Linked DNA regions of Homo sapiens. The protein of the gene in region 4 purifies or fractionates together with the protein of the main gene of each other region. This does not show direct contact. Each region holds a gene or a part of one and is shown on either strand. Other genes may lie near its edges. The genes, in order: AFG3L2, VPS13C, SKAP2 and GBA2.

Region 1 (5,749 bases), on a different chromosome or scaffold from region 4:
ATTCAAAAACATGTTAAGTGAAAGAAATCAGGCATAAAAAAACCACATATTGTATAATTTCATTTACATGGAATGTCTGTACTAGGAAATTCCTTTGGGTAGTTTGCTTAGGACTCCCGATTTACATATTTTTTTTTTTTTTGAGACGAGTCTCACTCTGTCACCCAAGCTGGAGTGCAGTGGCGTGATCTCAGCTCACTGCAAGCTCTGCCTCCCAGGTTCACGCCATTCTCCTGCCTCAGCCTCCCAAGTAGCTGGGACTACAGGCGCCCGCCACCACGCATGGCTAATTTTGGTTTTGTTTTTTTAGTAGAGATGGTGTTTCACCATGTTAGCCAGGATGGTCTCGATCTCCAGACCTCCTGATCCGCCTGCCTTGGCCTCCCAAAGTGCTGGGATATCAAGTGTGAGCCACCACGCCCGGCCACGATTTCTTCTTGATGTAATGGAAATGTTGTAAAACTGATTGTGGTGATGGTTGCACAAATCTGTGAATTACTAAAAGCTACTGAACTGTATACTTTACAGGGATCAATTGTTTGGTATGTCAATTATATCTCAATAAATGTTGTCACCAAAAAAAAAAAAAATCCACAAATAAAGCAAAATTTTTTTTTTTTTTTTGAGACAGCGTCTCACTCTGTTGCCCAGGCTGGAATGCAGTGGTGTCATCTTGGTTCACTGCAACTTCTGCCGCCTGGGTTCAAGAGATTCTCCTGCCTCAGCCTCCGAAATAGCTGGGATTATAGGCATGCGCGACCACGCCTGGCTAATTTTTCTATTTTTAGTACAGACAGGGTTTCGCCATGTTGGCCAGGCTGGTCTCGAACTCCTGACTTCAAGCGTTCCACCCACTTCAGCCTTCCAAAGTGCTGGAATTACAGGCATGAGCCACCGCGCCCAGCCGTCAATTCTTTAAATTGGTCTACTATAGGTAGCAGACTGCAGTCCTAGCTGGTGCGAGGGAAGGTGGGGTGGAAGTCACAGGCCTTGCTGAAGTCTTAGGCCTGGAGGAGAGCTCAGGCCAGGGACTGGTGAGAGGTCACTCTAGCACTCTAGGGGGAAGGGCCATCTCTAGCAAGTGCCTCCATCTGTGGTGAAGTGGTGGGTGCAAGGAAGCTGTACCATCCGAACAGAATGAGACTCACTCTAGCAGGGCCCACACCAACGAACATCTCCAAAAACTCAGATCCACTAACGGTGATGAAGGGGACATTGGCTTCTCCGGCTGTGGCCTTAGCTAGCAGCGTCTTCCCAGTGCCTGGAGGACCAGTGAGAATGGCACCCTTCAGATATGAAAAAAGAAATTACATTTAATGAGAATTCCAGAAAAGTAAATTGTGTATCCACAAATAATTACAAGATATAACTCTGTCTCTAAATCTTATTGATATATATTAAATATTACTTAAACATCTGAGCTATGGTAGAACATTTTTATATTAGTAAGAATAAAAAGATTATCAAAAATAATTTTGTTTCAAAAAATTTGGTAAGAATGTGAAATTTAAAATATTTCCTTTTTTTCCTAGGGCTGATTTTTAGACCTTTAGTCTAACAGTATGTAAAGGGTGACTTGGGCTAGGAATATACTAATAAATCTGCTAAGGTTTACTTAAATAATTTAAGAAGACACCAACACCACACTCCTGATTTATGTAATTCTTTTACTCTTTACAAGTAAAATTGGTTTTTGAGCTCAAATAATTAATAAACCCAACTTCTGACTTCTACTTTCATGTACAAATCAGTACATTTTTAGCATGGTTGGACGTGCAACTTAAAACCTAACTGTGAATTTGTTTTTATTTCCACTGACTACCCACAAACAGTATCCTCTCTTATTTATAGACATACTACCACACTACCATATCCAAATACTGTGAGGAGGTAGATAATATGGTCAAATGATATTTTTTCTAGGCTTTGTAATAAAACCTTAAGGTATTTTTAAAATTTTGCTTATTTTCTTCTTTAAAAGTTTCACAAATGAAGTAGAAATCTAACGACCAATGATGAACTTAACTTCAAAGAAAGATGTGTTTGCTCAAACAATACACTTTTTTTTTTTTGAGATAGAGTTTCACTCTTGTCCAGGCTGGAGTGCAATGGCACGATCTCGGCTCACTGCAACCTCCACCTCCCAGGTTGAAGCGATTCTCCTGCCTCAGCCTCTTGAGCAGCTGGGATTACAGGCGCACAACACCATGCCCAGCTAATTTTTTGTATTTTTAGTAGAGACAGGGATTCACCATGTTGGCCAGGCTGGTCTCGAACTCCTGACCTCAGGTGATCCACCCACCTCAGCCTCCCAAAGTGCTGGGATTACAGGAGTGAGCCACTGCGCCTGGCCCTACACAACTATTATATTAAGTTGTAGAGACAGTTAGGTGTAATGCAAACGGGTACTAAGTAAGTTATAAATTCATAAAATATGACTTTTTATCTATAGAAGTAAGACATAAAAATCAAGGAAATGATTATCTTTCAAAGGATTCCTTTAAAGTAAAATTTATTCATGGACTTTTAAAAGAATTATACCTTTTTATTCATTTACTTAATAGCTGATCCATTTAACAAATATGAAGTTAATGCTCCACGCCTAGCCCTAGGGGCACCAAGCCCTGTAGGGTACAGCCCACCACTAGCACAGTGGGCAAGAGCATATTTGCTGGAAAGGGGAAGGTGATGGTGAGTGCTGTGTCCTCTCCACTGGATCCTGTGCCGTGAACCTCAGCGCCAGCACAGGTGTCCTGTCCACATACATCCCTCGAAGGGACACTGGGTGACAGCAGAGTGTGACATTGTCAGTGAGCTACAGCGGGCCTACAGTTGCTGAGAGATAGGGCATCTAAATCAGATTGGAGGGAAAAGGAAGACGAATCAAGAAAATCTTCCAAGAGGAGGTGACACAGATATTTTCAGGAATACATACACTATACAAGACACATGCACACAGAACTGACCCAAAACGATCCTCGAGTTGGGCAGAGGCTAGCCTAGTAAGCTGAGAAAGAGGAAGGACAGAAAAACAGCTATCTATAATAAGTAATCAAACTTCACAGAATTATAACTTCAGAGATCAAGAAACATTTCAAAAAGTTAATCTTAAATTTCATTTTACCTTTGGGATTTTTGCTCCTAGGTCTTGATACTGCTTTGGGTTTTTCAAGAAATTCACAAATTCCATGATCTCTAGCTTGGCCTCCTCACAGCCAGCCACATCTTTGAACTTCACATCAATTTCATCCTTTAAGACCTTGGCAGTGGTTTCTCCGACACTGAAGAGTCCGCCCATCCCTCGGCCTGTCCGGCCAATGCCAGCAGGCCCTCTTCTGATGGTGTAGAGCAAGAAGGCGATGATGAGCACCGTAGGCAGCATGCTCAGCAGAAAAGAGCTGGGGACACACAGCGCAACACGGGTTAGGACTGGCTGCTCACCTCCAGCTTTCACATGTGGTGCAAGATATCAATATAAATATATATAGCTACACCAAGGTATACCTTCTGCACTTAATACAAAGGAGGGTAACTTGCAAGTGTTCTTCAAAGGCAACAGAATTCCCAAATAAGCTCCATGGCAACCAACTCTTCGAAATAAATGGAGCATCTGCCCAGACTTTAAGTGGGGTTACTAACATGGTCTTATTAAAGACAACCCCCAAAGAAGAAGTTCTGATGAGAGAAGAATCACCTAAAAATCCTGGAAAACTGTGAAATGTAAACATAAATGATAGTTCAAAGATGGGAATGGCACTCTTTGATACAAAGGGGTTCTTTATGCTAAAATCCTACCAAAGGTCAATGCATTGAATGTTAATACCCTAAACCACTGCTTCATCAAGATAAGTATAAATGTGTACAAAAGGAATGAATCAAAAATAAAAATAAAAATAAAAATAAAGATAAAAAGCCAGGTGTGGTGGCTCACAACTGTAATCCCAGCACTTTGGGAGGCGGAGGCAGGTGGATTACCTGAAGTCAGGAGTTCAAGACCAGCCTGGCCAACATAGTGAATCCCTGCCTCTACTAGAAATACAAAAATTAGCTGGGCATGGTGGTGGAAGCCTATAATCCCAGCTACTCTGGAGACTGAGGCAGGAGAATCGCGTGAACTGGGGTGGGGACAAAGGTTGCAGTGAGTCAAGATCATACGACTGCACTACAGCCTGGGCGACAGAGCGAAACCCCACCTCAAAAAAAAAAGAAAATGAATGAGTCATGCAAAAACTAGTGAGTTACTAATAGTTTTTTAAAAATCTGGCCAAACTGATAAAGGCCTGTTTGAGAATATAATGTATAGCCCTGCACCCAGGGACAGAACACAGTGAACCACAGGCAGCACAGTCAACAGTCTACAAAATATTATATTTGAGATTACCCATCACTTTCAGCAATGTAGACAACAGGCACCCGATTTTCTCCTTCTATGCCCAATTCCTGCTGTAAAGTTTCCAGATTCCGTTCAAAGGTGTCCACACTGCCAATATTAAACCAAACGTATTGCTATAAAAACAAAAAAACAAATATCCTAAGAATGTAGTGAAACTAAAAGGTTCAATTCACTAAACGGTTCAACTTTTTAAGAATTTTCCAGAAATACTGAAAATTTATAAATTAAAGAATAAACAATAATAAAAGACTGGCTTTAATAATGGTGGTGATTAAATGTCACTCATTGAGAACACTTGGCAATTCTTGGCAAATAAGCATTTCTTTAGCAGCAATATCTCAGTGGCTCTAAAATTATAAACTCAAAAAACAGAATGAAAAACCTATTTGAAAACGTAATCCTTTTTAAAATAAATATGCATTATTTCCCTCTTCCTCTATTTCCTAGGTATTTTAGCTCCCTATTCCCAAATTTAAAACTACTGTGAAACAGGGATAAGAGCTAAAGTTTACTGGGCATGTACTAAGTACCAGGCATTGTTCTGGGCCCTTCAGATGCATTAGTTCATTCAATCCTGAGGACCATCCTAAGAAGCAGGTGCCATCACTGGGGGTGATGTTCAAAATCCGAGCACCGCACCCCACTGTGCAACTGGAACAGATGCGCCTTGCTGTGCCAGGCACTCCCTCTTTATTCTCTAGAGCTGCAGAGACCCAGAGGGCCCAGCACAGGGACACCTCAGGGGCCAGGTCAAGGCTATTCTACCAATCAGCACATAATTATTTCCTATTGTACTCGTGTCTACTGACTGAATATGAGCCCTGACTCCTGTTTCCATTCTACAGATGACAAAACTTGCTCATGGTCACACATGAAATAAGAGGCTGGGATCTGAACCCAGACAGTCTGGCTCCTGAACCAGTGTCCTAACCACAATGTCACACTGCCTTTACACAACCATGAGGACACTGATTTTAACAGCTCACATTTATGGAGTTTACTAGCTAGAAGACCCCATTTCAAGCACTGTGCATGTATTAGCTCCATTTTATAGTACAAAAAAACTTTGTTTCTCCTCTAACCTGCAATCATCTTTTTTTAGAAAAGTATTTTTTAAATCAAAACAGTAAGTCTATCATATAAAACTCATTAGAGAGGCTGGGCACAGTGGCCAGTAATCCCAGCACTTTGGGAAGCCCAGGTGGCAGATCACCTGAGGTGAGGAGTTTGAGACCCCCCTGGCCACCATGGTCTCAAACTGTCTCTACTAAAACTACAAAAATTAGCTAGGCATGGTGGCACCCACCTATAGGCCCAGCTACTTGGGAGGCATGAACCTGGGAGGCACAGGTTGCA
Region 2 (5,749 bases), on a different chromosome or scaffold from region 4:
ACTTACCTTATTGGGCCTTAGTTTCTTCATCTTAATTTAAACTTTATAGAAAAAATATTTTTAAATTCTGAAAAGTTTAAATCATACTGGATGATATAATACTTTCATGTAATTACTCATATTTCAATGTTATAATATTATGCCATATTTACTTTAGACATTTTCTTTTTAAAAAGATAAAACGTATGGATATAGTCAGAGGTTCCATTGCCATCAAATGTTACTCTCTTTTATCTTTAAAATTGGAGGTTGGACTAGGTAACATCGAAGGTGATGCCAATATTCTGTTCTTCTGATAATGGTTTTACCATGACATTGAGGAGTATACTGCTTGAAGATTTTGAAGTTTTTCACAACTGAAATTAAAAATGTCGTAATTTTATGTTATTTCCCCTTTTGTCTTTTTTTGGTGAAATCTAGAAAAGGAGACTTTCTTTCATCTCATTTTTAAATTTTTAGAATAAGGTATTCTGCCAGTGGCCAACATTAACTTTATAATAGGCCTGAGCAAATAAACCCATTTCTTTCACATATTGTGTCTAGTGAACATCCAATCAGGGATTCTCCTAGCTTTATCAGCTCACAACTCTGCCTCTGTAAAGCTTTGCTGCCTTTTATTTTTGTGGTTGCTATAAAGCTAGAAGTCACGAGCTTTTATCATTATTGCACAGTCTGTTGTTGATAACCCTAATTTCTCAATAAAATTGGAAGGCAAGATATCTGAGTTGATTTTTCCTGTTCTTTCAAAATATTGCTAAAGAAATTTGTCTTAAACTTTTTTGGGTAAACAAATGGGAATATTAATTTAATAAAATAGGTGACATTTTATGATAACCATGATGTTGACAAGTTTTACAAAAAATTGAAAATTCTATATAATCTTCTTTGACAACTATTTGCTTTAGCAGATAAGGTTTACAGTTCACAGAGTTTTTTTTTTGTTGTTGTTGTTGAATTTTCAAGTCTTGAGAAAGGGAAGAATTCATCTTGTAAATATTTCACTGTAGGGACCAGCCCCACAGGGTCGGTGGGTCTCTCCCTGTGTGCGGCGACGAGAGAGTGTAGAAATAAAGACACAAGACAAAGAGATAAAAGAAAAGACAGCTGGGCCCGGGGGACCGCTACCACCAATGCGCGGAGACCGGTAGTGGCCCCGAATGTCTGGCTGCGCTGTTATTTATTGGATACAAAGCAAAAGGGGCAGGGTAAAGAGTGTGGGTCATCTCCAATGATAGGTAAGGTCACGTGGGTCACGTGTCCACAGGACAGGGGGCCCTTCCCTGCCTGGCAGCCGAGGCAGAGAGAGAGAGGAGACAGAGAGAAAGATAGCTTATGCCGTTATTTCTGCATATCAGAGACTTTTACTACTTTCACTAATTGACTACTGCTATCTAGAAGGCAGAGCCAGGTGTACAGGATGGAACATGAAGGCGGACTAGGAGCGTGACCACTGAAGCACAGCATCACAGGGAGACGGTTAGGCCTCCGGATAACTGCGGGCAAGCCTGACTGATGTCAGGCCCTCCACAAGAGGTGGAGGAGCAGAGTCTTATCTAAACTCCCCCGGGGAAAGGGAGCCTCCCTTCCCTGGTCTGCTAAGTCGCGGGTGTTTTTCCTTGACACTTTTCGCTACCGCTAGACCACCTTCCGCTCGGCAACGGGCGTCTTCCTAGATGCTGGCGTTACCGCTAGACCAAGGAGCCCTTCTGCTGGCCCTGTCCGGGCATAACAGAAGGCTCGCACTCTTGTCTTCTGGTCACACCTCACTATGTCCCCTCAGCTCCTATCTCTGTATGGCCTGGTTTTTCCTAGGTTATGATTGTACAGCGAGGATTATTATAATATTGGGATAAAGAGTAATTACTGCAAACTAATGATTAATGATATTCATATATCTCTAAGATCTATATGGTATAACTATTCTTGTTTTATATTTTATTATACTGGAACAGCTCGTGTCCTTGGTCTCTTGCCTTGGCGCCTGGGTGGCTTGCCGCCCACCTCACATACCTGATCTTACTATTCTTTGGAATCAATTGATAAACTACTTTGATACATCTTAACTGGAATGTCTAACTAGCCTAAAGCAGTGATTTTCAGTGGGAGGTGACTTTGTACCCAGGGTATATTTGACAGTGTCTGAGACTTTTTGGTTGCCACACTGAGGGAAGAGGTGTGCTATTGGCATGTAGCAGATAGACCCTGGAGTACTGCTAAACATTCTACAATGCAGAGGACAACTTCCTGCAGCGAATTGTCCAGCTCAAAATGTTAGTTGAGAAACCCTAGTCTAAGAAGAAGACTGAGATTGTCTTCTGCATTTGTAAGGGACCTACTGGGTGCTGAAAAAATTGTAAGGTTTTAAAAAGGACACGGAAGAAGTAGATTACTCTTAACGAAATCTGTAATTCGAGAGAGAAATTGATATCTTAAGTGACTGAAAGGTATCATGTCAATAAAAATGCGTAATCTTTGCTTGGATGATCTTTGGAAGTAGTTTTAAGATCGAAATATTGTGTTAACATGATTTGGAAAACATCATAGTGTGCATATATTCATATATGTATATATAGGCGTTCATAATGAAATTTACAATTAAAAAAGGTTGAGAGGCCAGGCACCGTGGCTCACACCTGTAATCCCAGCACTTTGGGAGGCCGAGGCAGGCAGATCACGAGGTCAGGAGATCGAGACCATCCTGGCTAACACAGTGAAACCCCGTCTCCACTAAAAAAAAAAAAAAAAAAATACAAAAAATTAGCCGGGCATGGGGGCAGGCGCCTGTAGTCCCAGTTACTCTGGAGGCTGAGGCAGGAGAATGGTGTGAACCTGGGCGGCAGAGGTTGCAGTGAGCAGAGATTGCACCGCTGCACTCCAGCCTAGGTGACAGAGCGAGACTCCCGTCTCAAAAAAAAAAGGTTGAGAAGGTTGGGGAAAATTACTGGAATGTCCAGAATCAGGAAGTATACTTTAGATGTTGCCTTTAAATTTGAGAAGCAAAGCAAACACAGCCTACCATTGTCTTTCTGTTTCTGTTCTTTAAAGATTTTATTTAATGCCAAGCAATTCTTATGTATTTTTAAAAGTAGTTTAAGCAGAATTTCCTTTTAAAAATCCTTGCCACTGTAGATAATTGAGACCTTGGTTATTTATTAGCTGTGGGACCCTGGGCAAAACATTTCAGTTCTCACTCTCGTAATCTGTAAAGTGGATATACAACTTTCAGTGTATTGTTGAGATAGATTATGTCAAAAACCTTTGTCATTGTTGATAATATTGATAATAATAATGATTAACAAACCTGGCTGGGTGATGGAAAACAGTCTTTGTTTTATTTTCATAAGGATGTTTCTTCTAACTTCAGACTTTTAGAGGTATTAATATTCTTCTTCTTCTTCCTCTTCTTTTTTTTTTTTACTTCTACTTTAAGTTCTGGGATACATGTGCAGAATGTGCAGGTTTGTTACATAGGTATACATGTGCCATGGTGGTTTGCTGCACCTATCAACCTGTCATCTAGGTTTTAAGCCCTGCATTATGTATTTGTCCTAATACTCTCCCTCCCCTTGCCTCCCACCTCCTGACAGGCCCTGGTGTGTGATGTTCCCTTCCCTGTGTCCATGTGTTGTCATTGTTCAAATCCCACTTATGAATGAGAACATGTGTTGTTTGGTTTTCTTAGAGGTATCAATCTTCTATTGAGTGATAATTTTGTGTAGAGCTATCATTACATATCTAAACATTTCTTATTTTCCAAACAAATTTCTTTTAAAAAAAACCTCTATTTGCCTTTGAATTTATGCTTATGCTTTTACAGTATTACCTGCCAGCTAGTTTGTAAGTCAGGCTTTCAGAGGTTCAGAAAAGTGCCTGGTGGGTACATACTGCCTACATAAGTAGGAAGGTTTATCTAGATTTTTGTTCCCCACAAACTGGTACCAATAGATAAATTTCACAGCCCTTAGCTATTGAGATGTGTCCAGGATATAATTGTTTTAAGAGTAACATATATTTGAAAAGGTATGTTGAAATGCCTCATCTTTTGCAATATGATTTGAGTAGTATTGTTGCAATGTAGAACCTTTGTCAATTTGATTTTTCAAAATGATTTACTGTGGAGAGTCAGCAGGAAAATCCTCCAGTACTCGGAACTCTGTTGTTCTTAATTCCACTGGACAGGTGGAATCAACATAGGAACTGTGATGTGTTAGATACAAGGGTGACTCTGGTGACCAGGAATAGAAGCCAAGTGCAATGCCCTCAGAATCTGTGGCCCTGCAAACCAGACTGAACCCGTGCTGTTTATCCCACTCCTGACAGTTTATCCCACTCTTGACACTTCCCCTTGAGCTGCCAGATATTGTTGGAGCAGTGCAGCATAAGAAAGGAGAATGAACACTGGACTGGGAATGAGCAAACCTCTTTAATCTTATTCCATCTCTGATTCTGTCTAGTTGTGTGGCTTTTGGCATGTCTCTGACAAGTGACCATTGGTTGCTTATCTGTAAGTGGAAAGGTTAGACAAGGTCATCTCTTCTGTCTTTAAACTTCTGTGATTTGAGCAAGGCAAGAACAACGTGAGATCCTTCATTGGATGAGTGGTACTGCCACTTCCTCCGCATTCATAGAGAGAAAAGGTAGTTAAATAATGTATCTTTATCTTTCCTTTTTGCTCTTCACCCGATATTGGTGAGTAAAGAGCCACAGTCAATGACAGTGACAAGATAAATGAAGTTCCAGGCTCATGCTGATATTTGTGGGTCCAAGTGTAATATACTGTAATATATTGTCTTAACAGGTACCTGTAGGGCAGCTTGAGAATGAAAGAAAAAGCAGCTCTTTTTGCTTTTTTTGGCTTTGACACATAAAAGATGTCAGTATCTAGGTATTTCTAAACCTGTAGAGGGATTTTCTTTAGTCTTTTCCTCCCAGCCAGCACTTGGTGTAGTGGAGGCCACATTTCTCATTAGCTTGTCCTATGGCATATAAAAGTAAACAATAATGAAAAGGTCATTAGTGTAATACATATTTAGGCTCAGTTACTACCAGTTAAAGCGGTGCTTAAAAATTTAAATTTAAGCACCTGTTCACATATTTAAGTAGCATTACTAATTAAAAATTAACTCCTTTTCTAGAACTAAAACTGAGAATTGGTATTTTGGTAACCATTCTGCTAGGAAGCTCTACCACATTACTCAATATTATGGGATCCCTGAAGTGAACTGAAAGGGAGAAAGTTCAGTGGTGATGTTGCAGCTTTCTACCTTCCTTTGTCAAAACTTCCTGTTTCAGTAGGGAAATGGGAAGAGTGAGAGAGTTGTTTCCTTTCTCTTTCCTGTCTTCCTCTCTGAAGACAAAGTCACTGTGAACTCATTAAAAGGAGTCTAGATTGGTTAATTTGGGTTGACTAGCTAGATTCATTTGAAATGAATAGCTATAATATTTTCTTTGGTATTCTTTTTTTTTTTTTTTTTTTTTTGAGACGGAGTCTTGCTTTGTCGCCCAGGCTGGAGTGCAGTGGCACAATCTCGGCTCACTGCAAGCTCTGCCTCCTGGGTTCACGCCATTCTCCTGCCTCAGCCTCCACAGTAGCTAGGACTACAGGCACCCGCCACCACGCCTGGCTAATTTTTTTGTATTTTTTAGTAGAGACGGGGTTTCACCGTATCAGGATGGTCTTGATCTCCTGACCTTGTGATCCACCTGCCTCAGCCTTCCAAAGTGCTGGGATTACAGGCGTGAGTCACCG
Region 3 (5,749 bases), on a different chromosome or scaffold from region 4:
GGGAAATTTATAAACAATAGAAATTTATTTCTCACAGTTCTGGGAGCTGGGAAGTCCAAGATCAAGGCACCAGCAGGGTCAGTGCCTAGTGAGGGCTGCTCTCTGCTTCAAGATGCCACCTTGTTGCTGCATCCCCCAGAAGAGTTGAATGCTGTACCGTCACATGGCGGAAAGGCAAGAGAGGGGTTCCACAGCTCTCTCTAGCCTTTTTTATAGAGACATATCCCATTCTTGAGGGTAAAGCCCTCATGCCTTAATCACCTCCCAAAAGCCCCAGCTCTTAATACAATATCCTTGGGAGTTAATTTCCAACATATGAATTTTGGAGGTACACATACATTCACACCATAGCATTCAACCAACAAACTCCTACTCATTCTTTCAGGCCCAATGAAGTGTTCTCTCCACCAGGACATCTTCCCTAACTTCCCTAGGCAATTAGTTTCCCTCCTTTGTGATCCAAAGATACCTTATTTAAATTACTTACTGTACTGCATTGAAATGGTCAGTTTACCTGCCCAGCTCCCTCCTCCAACCCCACAGCATCCTTCCCTCTCTCACTGATATCCACAAAACCCAAACTGTGAGCACCTCTAAGGATCTTTGGATCCTCAGTGCCTACTAGCTAACAAGTGCCTGAAAAAATATTTATCAAATTTAGAAAAAGAATGAGTAAGTGAATGAATGAATGAATGACTTGAAGGACATCTGAACATCTAGGACCTAAGAATTTTGATGAATAAGACTCACGACAATCAAAGGAAAAGGAAGGATATGAAAGGATGAATAAGATTTCATAAGGTGTTAAAATACATACTATATGTATTTGTTACTTAAGGGTCCCAAATGGCTATAAATAATAAATACAGACAATATTTATTGGTACAATGGTAAGTGCATTATTTACCCAACAGGTTGGAACTACTCTTTCTAAGCCACTCCTATCTTGATAGGTCAATATGTTTTTTGGCACACGCAATATGGTAGAAAATGTGAACTATGTATCTGTCAAACAGTAACAAAGCACAGTTTAACCTAGTAAGTGGTGTCAACTCCTTCTGTGCCTCTATAATCCATTTATCTAAATCCTACTTAGTTGGAGGATTATAGTTCTCATATAGCTAGATATGAGTTCTTCCCATTAGGTAAATGGTTCACACATACAGTAAACAAGGCTATAAAAAATCATATCTAATTTCACAAAAGAAAAAAATTATTTGACATATTTTCCTGGTAAGAAAAAGATATAAAGGAAGGAAATCGGGATCATGCCAAACAAGTAATTAAAAACTGTCTAAAGACAGATCTTTTTTTGGAGTCCCTTAAAAGAGAGGAACTGGCTAAAAATTTCGAATGAAACCGCCAATAGAAAAAAGAACCACAAGAAACAAATCTAAAATTTCACTGGAAACAGGAGGCTGCAAAGTAAAAGGGAAAAATTTAAGGAAACACAAGCCACATCTTCAGACATCAACATGAAAAAGGAATGCTAAAATGGTAATTTTTTTAAAGTGGAAGTGTCAGAGGCTTTTAAACCAGAGCAACTCCGTCTTGAATAGGGGCTGAGTAAAATAAGGCTTTGACCTATGGGGGCTGCATTCCCAGGAGGTTAGGCATTCTTAGTCACATGATGAGATAGGAGGTTGGCACAAGGTACAGATCACAAAGACCTTGCTGATAAAAGGATGCAGGAAAGCAACTGGCCAAAACCCACCAAAATCAAGATGGTGATGAAAATGACCTTTGGTTTTCCTCACTGCTCATTATATGCTAATTATAACGCATTAGCATGCTAAAAGACACTCCTACCAGTGCCATGATAGTTTACAAATGCCATGGCAACATCAGGAAGTTACCCTATATGGCTTAAAAAGGGGGAGAAACCCTCAGTTCTGAGAATTGCCAACCCCAGTTCAGGAAAACTCATGAATAATCCACTGCCTGTTTAGCATATAATCAAGAAGTAACAATAAGTGTAAGCAGCTGAGCAGCCTATGCTCTGCTTTGCCTATGGAGTAGTGATTCTTTTGTTTCTTTACTTTCTTAATAAACTTGCTTTCACTTCCCTCTACGGATTGGCCTCAAATTCTTTCTTGCATGAGATCCAAGAACCCTCTCCTGGGGTCTGGATCAAGACCCCCTTCCAGTAACAGAAATGACAGAAAGGGCTAAATGGATCACAAAGTAGTTAAAATGCAAATTACAAACAATGTTACTACCATTAGGTCTCATCAAATAAGAATAAAAATGAACTCAGGAATTCAAGATTGCAGTAAGCTATGATGGCACCACTGCACTCCAGCTTGGGTGACAGAGTGAGGCCCCCGCATCTCTAAAAAGAAAAAAAAAAAAAGGAATGTAACTAATATCTAAATAACTCTAACTAAAATGTTTTCATTGAATATATTAGTGTTTGAAGTAAATATTAACACGCTTTGGGTTTTGGGGAAACTCTTGCTAATCTTTGACCTAACCATTGTTATATGCCAGTCAGGACTAGAAATGGAGGAAACACTGACATTAGTATTCATTGATTCTTAAAGAAATTAGAAATGAGAAGCCTAATTGAATCAAAGTCACAAGGATCTGAAACCTCCCTCCCCTGGTCTGGTGAAAAAGAGGATATTTTGTGGAAGGTAGTATCTCGATCTAAATTCACAATATCATACAAAACTATATTTCTATGATCTGTGATAATCGTAACTGAACTTGGACTCTAAATTTTCTGACCTACTTCACTACTGACCCTTAGCAGAAGAAAGATGCTTGTTTATAGCTGTTTACAGTTTACACTTCACTGATGCCATTACTACATCTGAACATACTGTAAATTAGTGATGGAATGCAAACTAGCTACTAAATTAATTAATTTGTTAATCTCATTAGCCAAAAGGTAAGAACAACTTCCAGCATTATGTAAGTATTTCAGACTTATCTGAAATATGACAATCTTACCTGTATGTTTTTAGAATGGGGGAAAAAACTCTAAAAACTATAAATAATGTCAAATAAAACATAAATTTCCAAACAACACTGATAACAATTCCATAGGAAAGCTTACATTCAGTGATACTTTTGCCTTTTTCTTCTTAAAGTGTCCTTTCTGGAAATGAACATTATCTATTTTGATACAACCTTTACTTTATAATATTCAACTCCTAGCCTGTTTTCCCCAGAATAAAACAAAACTCAGAAAGCTTACAATCTTTAAATTTCATTATTTGGTGGCTTTATTTGTTCAAATAACAATCTTAAAATTATGTGAACTACAACTGAGAGATTTATTAATTAACAATGAAGTTATAAAATGTATCCTATTATTTCTAAATTAATGTAGTGACAATAGTGGTTGAGAACATGGACTCTAACCATATTCTCTAGGTTAAAATCCCAAATTTGAGCTGGGTACAGCGGTGTGCACCTGTAATCCCAGCTACCTGGGAGACTGAGACAGGAAGATCACTTGAGCCCAGGAGTTTGAGGCTGCAGGGTGTGATGACTACACCTGTGAACAGTCACAGCTCTCCAGCCTAGGCACCGAGACAAGACCCTGTTTCTAAAAACAAAGGAAAAACAAATTCCTAGATCTGCCATTTTCCAACTCTGTGACCTTGAACAAGTCACTTAACCTCTCTGTTCTCAGTTTTCCTAAAAGTCAAATTAATGGTGCTAATAATAGTACTTACAGAGTTGTTGTGAGCTAAACAAGTTAACATAGCTAACGTACTTAGACAAAGTGCTTAGAACGGTGCCCAGTATATAGTAAATTCTATGTACACGTTTGCTGTTATTCCTTAAATCTGTAAAGGGAGCTCAGAAAGGTGCTGTTCGTATTTAATTTTATCTAATTTTATTTTAAAATATTTAAGAAAAATAATCTATTTTCTGCCATTGAAACTCTCACAACCCTATGTTCTTAACTTTTCCAGAAATTCTACAACAGTAGGCTGGATAATAAATATTCCCTAAGGTGAAAGGCCACACAGATTAAAGTTATTTTACTCTCTTTTCTAATTCAATACAACACAATTGTTTTAGCTCTGAGGGTATTCTGGTATTTGGAGCATTTGTCAAATAATGAAATGAATCATAAATTAGTCAGATTATAATTGTTATAATTCTCAGTTATTATTAGTTTGTCTTCAGTTTACTCTGTACTCAAAAGAGGGGGAAGGGATGGCCAAAAATTCTTTTGCAATAGTAGTTGATATAATTGAACACCAACATTACCTTTATCACTTCCATAATAATAGAATACCGTTTTACTGAGAGCACACCACCGTTTCTGCCATTCAAATCCCAGAAAGCTGTGATCTGCAATAAAGAGGGGAAAATGTAAGGCCATTTCCTTACTGTAAAAGAAAAAGTTAATTAATATGATTTCTAAGATTCCTCTGAGCTCTAACATTGTGTGACTAATTTGTATCTTCTTTTCCAAGAGACAAAAAACCAAACAACAACAAACCAACACAGCTAAAGGGAATAAAGTAAAGTAGCTATGGGGCTGCCATACTTATGGGATCAACAGCATGGCTAACAAAGTTTTCTGACAGGGACAGTCAAAAAGGTATCTGACTATACAGTCTTGAGATAATTGATCCATCTGGGTCTCATTTTCTCATCTGTTATAAAAAGAAGGGGAGGAGCTAACCTAGATTATTTCTGTTATCTCTTTCAGTTTTAAAATTCAGCTAAGAAAGCTAAGAAAAGCAAAATGAAATATAAATAGAAAGGCCTAAAGGGACTACAAGAGAGATAAGCAGAATGGTAATGAAAAGACTGTCTGCTTTTCATTTCTCATATTATAAAACCACCTCCATATTTCATTTCCATTAAATATTGGTGTTGAAAGAGTGAGACCATATGGTCAACTCCCAATTATCATAGCCAATGGAGAGGAACACTGAAATGAATAATAGACAATGGCAGACAAAACTCCAGGCTTGATCTGAACCATGGTGCATGCCAGTTTGGGCATAGGAGAACCTGCTGCTCAGCCCATTGAGATACTGGTGAGAAATCCCACCTTTGAGAATACAGTCATGGCCTGCAGCTTTCCTTTGAGAGGCAGGAAACAGCTCCTGAATCATTTACAAATAACCAAGGTTGACAACTAAAAACCTAACCTAATGTTTTCTTATTAAAAATTATTTAAAGCTAAGAGCTATATTTTGTGGTTTGGATAATGTCATCCAGATTTTCTTACAATCTTTAAACTCTTTAATCACCTAAAACGAATACTGCCTCCACATGTATACTACAAACATGTTCTATCTAAGGATGAAATTATTTTTACATTTTTCATTAGAACCTTCAGTTTACCTTTTCTGCGTTTTTCAAGGTAGCCAGCCTTTAGAACAAAAGGAAGGTCTTGTGCTGCAATTGGAGGAAACTGGGCTCCTATGAGAAGTTGGGGAGAGAAAAAAAAAAGCAGTGGGTAATCCATTTCAGAATAAACAAGTGCCAGATCTCATTAGATTCAGTGTGCTTTTAATTACTGAAATTGTTTAAATCTAAGTCTATTAGCTTTGTTTCAGATCCATTCCCTAGATTAATCCCCTCTATTCCTCCTAAAAGTCTCAAAAGTAAAAAAAAAAAAAAAAAAAAAAAAGTTCTGTACTCCTATATGTTATTATAGCCTCCCAAAATACAGGACTGAGAAACTATTATAAATAAATGCAATAAATCCCTGAAAGAGAGGTTAAGAATTTCAAATAAATCATAGCTTCGTTATATTTATATTGAATTA
Region 4 (5,749 bases):
CTGCTCCCATGCCGTGTAATAGACAATGAGTCATTCTTTCTTGAGCCCTACAATCCCTTGTTGCCCAGTTTCTCACCTCAGGCCTCCTGGAAACCCCTACCCGCTAACCTGGGGCCTGTGGTCACCCATCCATCATAGGTCTGGTCTGCATAGCCTCCATTTTCAATGAGTCCATCATGGTCCTTGTCAAACTTCATTTCAGATTCCATCACAGCCTAGAGAGGGACCAAGATGTTGAAGACCTAGGTACCGAGGAAAGGCAACAACCAGCTAGGCTCTTCCCAGACACCAACCATACCCCTGGCACACTGGCCACTGCATGTGCATCCCTTACTAGACACACAGGCCACATGTCCTTCAGGAAGTTTTGATCACCCGTGAGGTAATAGTCCCGATAAACCTGCAGCACAAACTTCAGGTTCAGGTCCTTCCAATCAGCAGTATCATGGATTAAATATGCATTGACGCGGAGCCATGGTTCATCATCTGTGGGAGAGGAGGGGACTTGGGTCACTTGCATTGGTGGATAGGGTAGAGGGTGCAAAAGTTGAGGGAGGGAAGCTGACCTTGGGGTGGACTTTTACCTGGGTCCCCAATATCATGGGGGATGACGTTCCTCCTTTTCACAGGTGCCATCACCCCACTCATCAGGTACCGTCGCCGTGTCAGGTCCTCCCTGAGAGTGGCCAGAGCTGGGGGAGAGACACAGAAGGGAGGCAGGGAATGGGCATGCCTGAGGAGGGGCACACAGCTATGTGTGTGACTGCAGTGGGGAACCAGTAAGCAGCATGCAGATACGTATGAAGGGAAGGGAAAGAAGAGACAATCTGAGGGACCACAGAAGTTCGGGGGTATGGGGAGCCAAGAGGGCAGAAGCGGCACAAAAGGGATCCTCACCCATGTCATACTGTAGGCTGAGCTCAAGTTTGGGCCAGAGCATGATGAGGGCAAAGGAAGCATAAAAGTGGACATCATATGTGTTGTACATGCGGTACTCCTGGCCTGGAGGAATGAATGAGACACACTGTTGCCAGAATTCCTGCTTCCCCTTCAAACCCCTCTGTAGCTTGTCCTCTAGATTTAGAGGTGGGGCATTGTTACTAGTCCACACCCAACACCCCCTCATCCTAACCAATACCCTGGGGTAGGCAAATCCATCATCCTGACTTGGGGATGGCCTGCCATATCCCAGCCCACCAGCATCCTGTACCCTCAAGGTAGCCAAATCGACCGTAGTCCCGTAGGGTGGGGCGGAGGTGACACATGTTTCTGCCCAGCTCCTCTGGTAGGGAGTCCTCAAGAACTTCCAGCCACACTGTGCCTCCATCAGCCAGGAAGTATAGTTCATTGAACAGCGCAGATTTGTACCAGGCAGGCAGTGATCTGGGAAGCGAGGAGGAGGAAATGGTTTAAGGAACATGTACCTCCCAAGATGGAAAGGATTTGGGGGTTCAGCAGAGTGGGATCATCAAATGAATCCCAGTGCAAGTCTACTGACTTTGGTGGGTGGAGAGTAAATCGAGGAGTCCCATTTGGAGTGAGTGCCCAGGAGAAAGGCAAGAAATGGGCCCCACTGGCACCTGTCATCCAATACCGGGCTCTGCCAAGCTGAGATCCTCTCTTCCCACTCTGCGTATCGGCACAGTGCATAGTGGCTGAGGGCAGGTGCTGCATCTCCATCCTGGCCAAAGAACCTTGTATACCGCCTGGGGTGGGAAGGGGAAGGATGAACACAAGCCCCAGGTCAGAGCCCCAGCACTCTGGATCCTTACACTTTCTTGGTCCCCTCACCTGTAGTGGACTTGGCCTTTAGCTCCAAACATGATCCTGGGCATGTCCCAAGCCAGTGAAAACTCCAGGCGGCACTGGCCTCGAGGTCGCAACTTGCTGGAAACACACACAGCTCCAGCAATGCCTACTCCTTTCTGCGTAGGGGTGCTTTGGCCTGAGAGAAACACAAGAGAATTCAGGACAGGAGCCCCTTCAGCCCCAGGGATAGGGATCCCTAACATGGAAACAAGGCCTACTTATTACCAGGCCTCCCACCCCTGGTCCCAAGACAGGGACAACCTCTCTTCCCACCATCTCCCAGTCAGACCCCCCATCACCAGTGGGAGAGTCCAGCTGTCCATCCTGAAGTAGATCCTGCCACACCTGCTGCCCCGTGCTGTCAGGGTCAAAGGCTGTGATGTGGGTTACCGTGGTAGCTGCCTGTGAAGGGGTCAGGGACTGTGAGGGCAGGCTCCACGAGTACACTGGGTCCCGGCTAGCTCCCCAGCTCCTCTTACTTACTCTTAACCTCCCAGGCCCAGGGGCTTACAGGAGTATGATGAGGGTGGATGAAGAGACCATGCTGGGGTGGAGGTGGGGTTCAGGGGCTAAGGTATAGGGCAGGCTCTTTCCTTACCGTGACTCGTGCAGCCACAGCCATCGTGTAGGGGTTTGGAAGGGTTGGATGATGCAGGAGCAGCCCCCGGACAGTTTCCCCGCTACGCTCCAGACAGAAGGGCTCATTCCACAAACCCCCTGGGGCATCGTCTCCACCACCCAGTCCATTCCGCATGGAGAACATGATGGACACATCTAGAGCTTCGTCCCCTTCATTTTCCACATCCCACACAAAGACTCCTACAGGCAGGCTGCTGTCCTGGGGGCAGAAGATTAGACTCAGACGGTCCCAGTAGAGCGCCTCCTGACCCCACTCTGCTAGGATCAGTCCTGGGCACACAGAGGACCTGACTCAAATACTCCCCAGTGTACTCTTCTTTTGTCCACTTGCATCTCCCCATATTCCCAGGCAAGCTGCCTAGCAGGGAATATAGAAGACCAGAACCAGTTGGGCGGTGGTTCTGGGAAGCCAGTGTGATGTTCATGGCTCCAACCTCCCTTTCACAGGCCATGCAGTTTCTTTTTTTTTTTTTTTGGGGGGTGCGGTGGCGCAATCTCGGCTCACTGCAAGCTCCGCCTCCCGGGTTCACACCATTATCCTGCCTCAGCCTCCCGAGTAGCTGGGACTACAGGTGCCTGCCACAACGCCCAGCTAATTTTTTTTTTTGTATTTTTAGTAGATATGGGGTTTCACGTGTTAGCCAGGATGGTCTCGATCTCCTGATCTCATGATCCGCCTGCCTTGGCCTCCCAAAGTGTTGGGATTACAGGCGTGAGCTACCGCGCCTCGCAGGCCATGCAGTTTCTAGCAGAGGCAGGTCCTGGGGAAGGGAGGGCAATGGAAGATACAGATGTGGGGGCCTCACCTGGTAGTCATGGGGCAAGATGGGTGTGATCTGACGGCAGGTGAGGGTGACATTCTGGCCAGGAAGCTGATAGACAGTCCAGGCTCGGGGATAGAGGGCATGGTAGAAAGCAAAGTACCCACACAGGCCCCAGTTCCAGCTGCGGAGGACACTTGGGCGCTCCAGGGACAGGACTTGCTGGTACACAGTCTGCCCTTCCCGACGCAGGCACACTGTGAACTTAAGAGGGCAGATAGGCTGGAACGGGGTAAACCACAGGGACCACAGACTAAGTCTTCCCTCTCCTCAAATCAGCTCCTCCCCTTTCAGAGCCTGCAACTGTTACCACTGCACCATCAGCTTCAAGTCATCCCCCAGGCTCAGTGAATCACCAAGTCCTGCTACCTCCCCATCCATCTATCTCCCAAGCTTTCTCTCCCTTCTCCACTACGGTGGTGTTAGCACCTCACTTAAGCCCAATCTCCTGCTTTTTCTGTGGCCCTTTTCATCTGGGTAGCAGAGTGATCTTTCTCACAGGCAAATCAAGATATGTCAGTCCTTGGTTAGGATGTTTCAGTGACTCCCCATGGCCCTCAGGCTAAAGTCTCAACTCTTGCCTGGCTTTCAAGGCCCTTCTTGAGCTGGCCTCTCCCTGCCCATCAGACTCATCACCTGTTCAAGCACCTATAGTCTGTTCATATAAAAACACTCACTGTTCCTTGAGCACACTACATTCTCTCCTCCATGCCTGTGCTCATGCTTGTTCGCTATCTGGTGAAACCTCTCATCCTTCAAAGCCTAGGTCAAAAGCCATCTCTTCCTCCTCTACTTCTTCCAGCAGTGAGTCATTATGTGTGCCCCCCTCCCCTTCTATTCTAGCATTTGGTGTATTATGTTATAATGTATTGACTGACCATTCTGTGTCCCTGACTGCTGTATGGATTCTTCTGAGGGTAGGGACATTTTTTAATTCACTGATGCACCCTTCTTCAGAGTTGGCATGTATGTGGAGGGAATGAGCGAAATCTGCAGCACCGTCCCTTTTTCCACAGTATACTATCCACCCCTCTCCTTTTAGCACTGATGTGGTCTCACAGTCTCCATTTCCCCTAAGTCTTATTTTCTCAAAAAAAGTTTTAGCTCTTGGAGGGTAGGAGCTATGAGGGATTAATATCCCTTTCCCTGGTTCAAACTATGTCAAATATTTTTATTGTATACAGTGGGCTCTCCATATCTGTGAGTTCCACATCAGTGGATTCAACCAACCAAATCTAAAATATGTGGAAAAAAAGTTGTGTCTGTACCGAATATGTACACACTTTATTTACTGTACGGCACAACAAGGGTTTATGTAACAATGTATGAGGTATTATAAGTAATCTACAGATGATTTAAAGTATATAGGAGGATGTGCAATGGTTATTTGCAAATACTATAAGCCATTTCAAATCAAAGACTTGAGCATCCTCGGATAGCAGGTCCTGGGCCCAACCCCCCATGGATACTGAGGGACAACTGTATAAAATAATTTTTCATTTTGTTGGAATGGTACATAATGGTTAAGACCACAAGCTCTTCACCCCAGAAAGAAATGGTTCTGAATCCCAACCTTTCCATTTACCAACCTTGTGACCTTGCGCATGTTACTAAACCTCTCTGGATCTTAGTGTCCTCATCTGCAAAATGAGCATAATAGTGGTACTTCCCTTGTAGGATTGTTTTTAATATTAAACAGTATACAAAGAGCCTAGCACAGTGTCTAGCACATGTTAAGCATGCAATAATTACTTTAATTGTAGAGTCACAATTCTGGAAGCCATTCCCCTCAGGATACCTAAGGGATGAGGCAGAGAGGGATCTTGGGACATGGGCAGGGCTGGTAAACGTGAACCAGGAAGGGTATTGTCATTAATTGGACTAAAGATTTGCTAGTCATTTTTCCTTTGAAGATGAGGCTGAATGCTGGAGCCAAGAAAGAGGAACTTCCTAGGCAACTCTAAAGGGGCGGTCAACTAGAGAGAGATGATGAGAGGCAGGACACATACTTCTGGCAATTTAAGGCCCAGATGTGATGCAGGAGCAAAAGGAAAAAAGTGAAGCTTCAGAAGAGGGAAGAAGGCTAGAGATCTAAGCCTGGGAGAGAAGGAGCTTTTTAGACCCTAAGCCAGGAGACCTCCAGGGGAGTGATCAGCAGAGGAGCTGAACTTTGGTGAAGGTTCCTCAATCAGGGTGAGGAACCTTGTACTACGTGTCTTTTTTTCCCATGAGTTTATAGACTTTGGGTTTTCTTTTCCCTTCCAGTCCTACAAAATGTTCTTTCAGGCAGGTTAAGTGATTTGGGAATTCTCTGCATTCTCTGTGGTTGGGGGCTGCCTCAGCTAGTTGGGTTGGGGCAGTGAGGTAGACAGGAGGCATTTACTAGAGAAATGCCAGATCTGTTTACTCTTTCAAGGAATGTGTGCTTGTGTGTGTCTTATTCCTACGGTATATCCTAGCTCAGGGCTGGGCACACAGGA

The links.
Region 1: the proteins of GBA2 (region 4) and AFG3L2 purify together in Homo sapiens (affinity purification with mass spectrometry; one large-scale study listed by BioGRID and IntAct). This does not show direct contact.
Region 2: the proteins of GBA2 (region 4) and VPS13C purify together in Homo sapiens (affinity purification with mass spectrometry; one large-scale study listed by BioGRID and IntAct). This does not show direct contact.
Region 3: the proteins of GBA2 (region 4) and SKAP2 purify together in Homo sapiens (affinity purification with mass spectrometry; one large-scale study listed by BioGRID and IntAct). This does not show direct contact.

What each region holds. Positions count from the first base shown.
Region 1 is NC_000018.10:12,355,546-12,361,294, forward strand, and holds part of AFG3L2 (mitochondrial inner membrane m-AAA protease component AFG3L2), read right to left. Parts: intron 4,507-5,749; coding exon 4,382-4,506; intron 3,399-4,381; coding exon 3,125-3,398; intron 1,287-3,124; coding exon 1,149-1,286; intron 1-1,148. UniProt on the Homo sapiens protein: Catalytic component of the m-AAA protease, a protease that plays a key role in proteostasis of inner mitochondrial membrane proteins, and which is essential for axonal and neuron development.
Region 2 is NC_000015.10:62,052,403-62,058,151, reverse strand, and holds part of VPS13C (intermembrane lipid transfer protein VPS13C), read left to right. Parts: intron 1-5,749. UniProt on the Homo sapiens protein: Mediates the transfer of lipids between membranes at organelle contact sites. Necessary for proper mitochondrial function and maintenance of mitochondrial transmembrane potential.
Region 3 is NC_000007.14:26,734,565-26,740,313, forward strand, and holds part of SKAP2 (src kinase-associated phosphoprotein 2), read right to left. Parts: intron 5,401-5,749; coding exon 5,323-5,400; intron 4,315-5,322; coding exon 4,231-4,314; intron 1-4,230. UniProt on the Homo sapiens protein: May be involved in B-cell and macrophage adhesion processes. In B-cells, may act by coupling the B-cell receptor (BCR) to integrin activation. May play a role in src signaling pathway.
Region 4 is NC_000009.12:35,738,418-35,744,166, forward strand, and holds part of GBA2 (non-lysosomal glucosylceramidase), read right to left. Parts: intron 4,910-5,749; exon of another isoform or gene 4,876-4,909; coding exon of another isoform or gene 4,859-4,875; intron 3,492-4,858; coding exon of another isoform or gene 3,474-3,491; coding exon 3,255-3,473; intron 2,648-3,254; coding exon 2,408-2,647; intron 2,212-2,407; coding exon 2,109-2,211; intron 1,946-2,108; coding exon 1,792-1,945; intron 1,707-1,791; coding exon 1,581-1,706; intron 1,384-1,580; coding exon 1,211-1,383; intron 1,003-1,210; coding exon 898-1,002; intron 693-897; coding exon 585-692; intron 487-584; coding exon 335-486; intron 216-334; coding exon 109-215; intron 1-108. UniProt on the Homo sapiens protein: Non-lysosomal glucosylceramidase that catalyzes the hydrolysis of glucosylceramides/GlcCers (such as beta-D-glucosyl-(1<->1')-N-acylsphing-4-enine) to free glucose and ceramides (such as N-acylsphing-4-enine).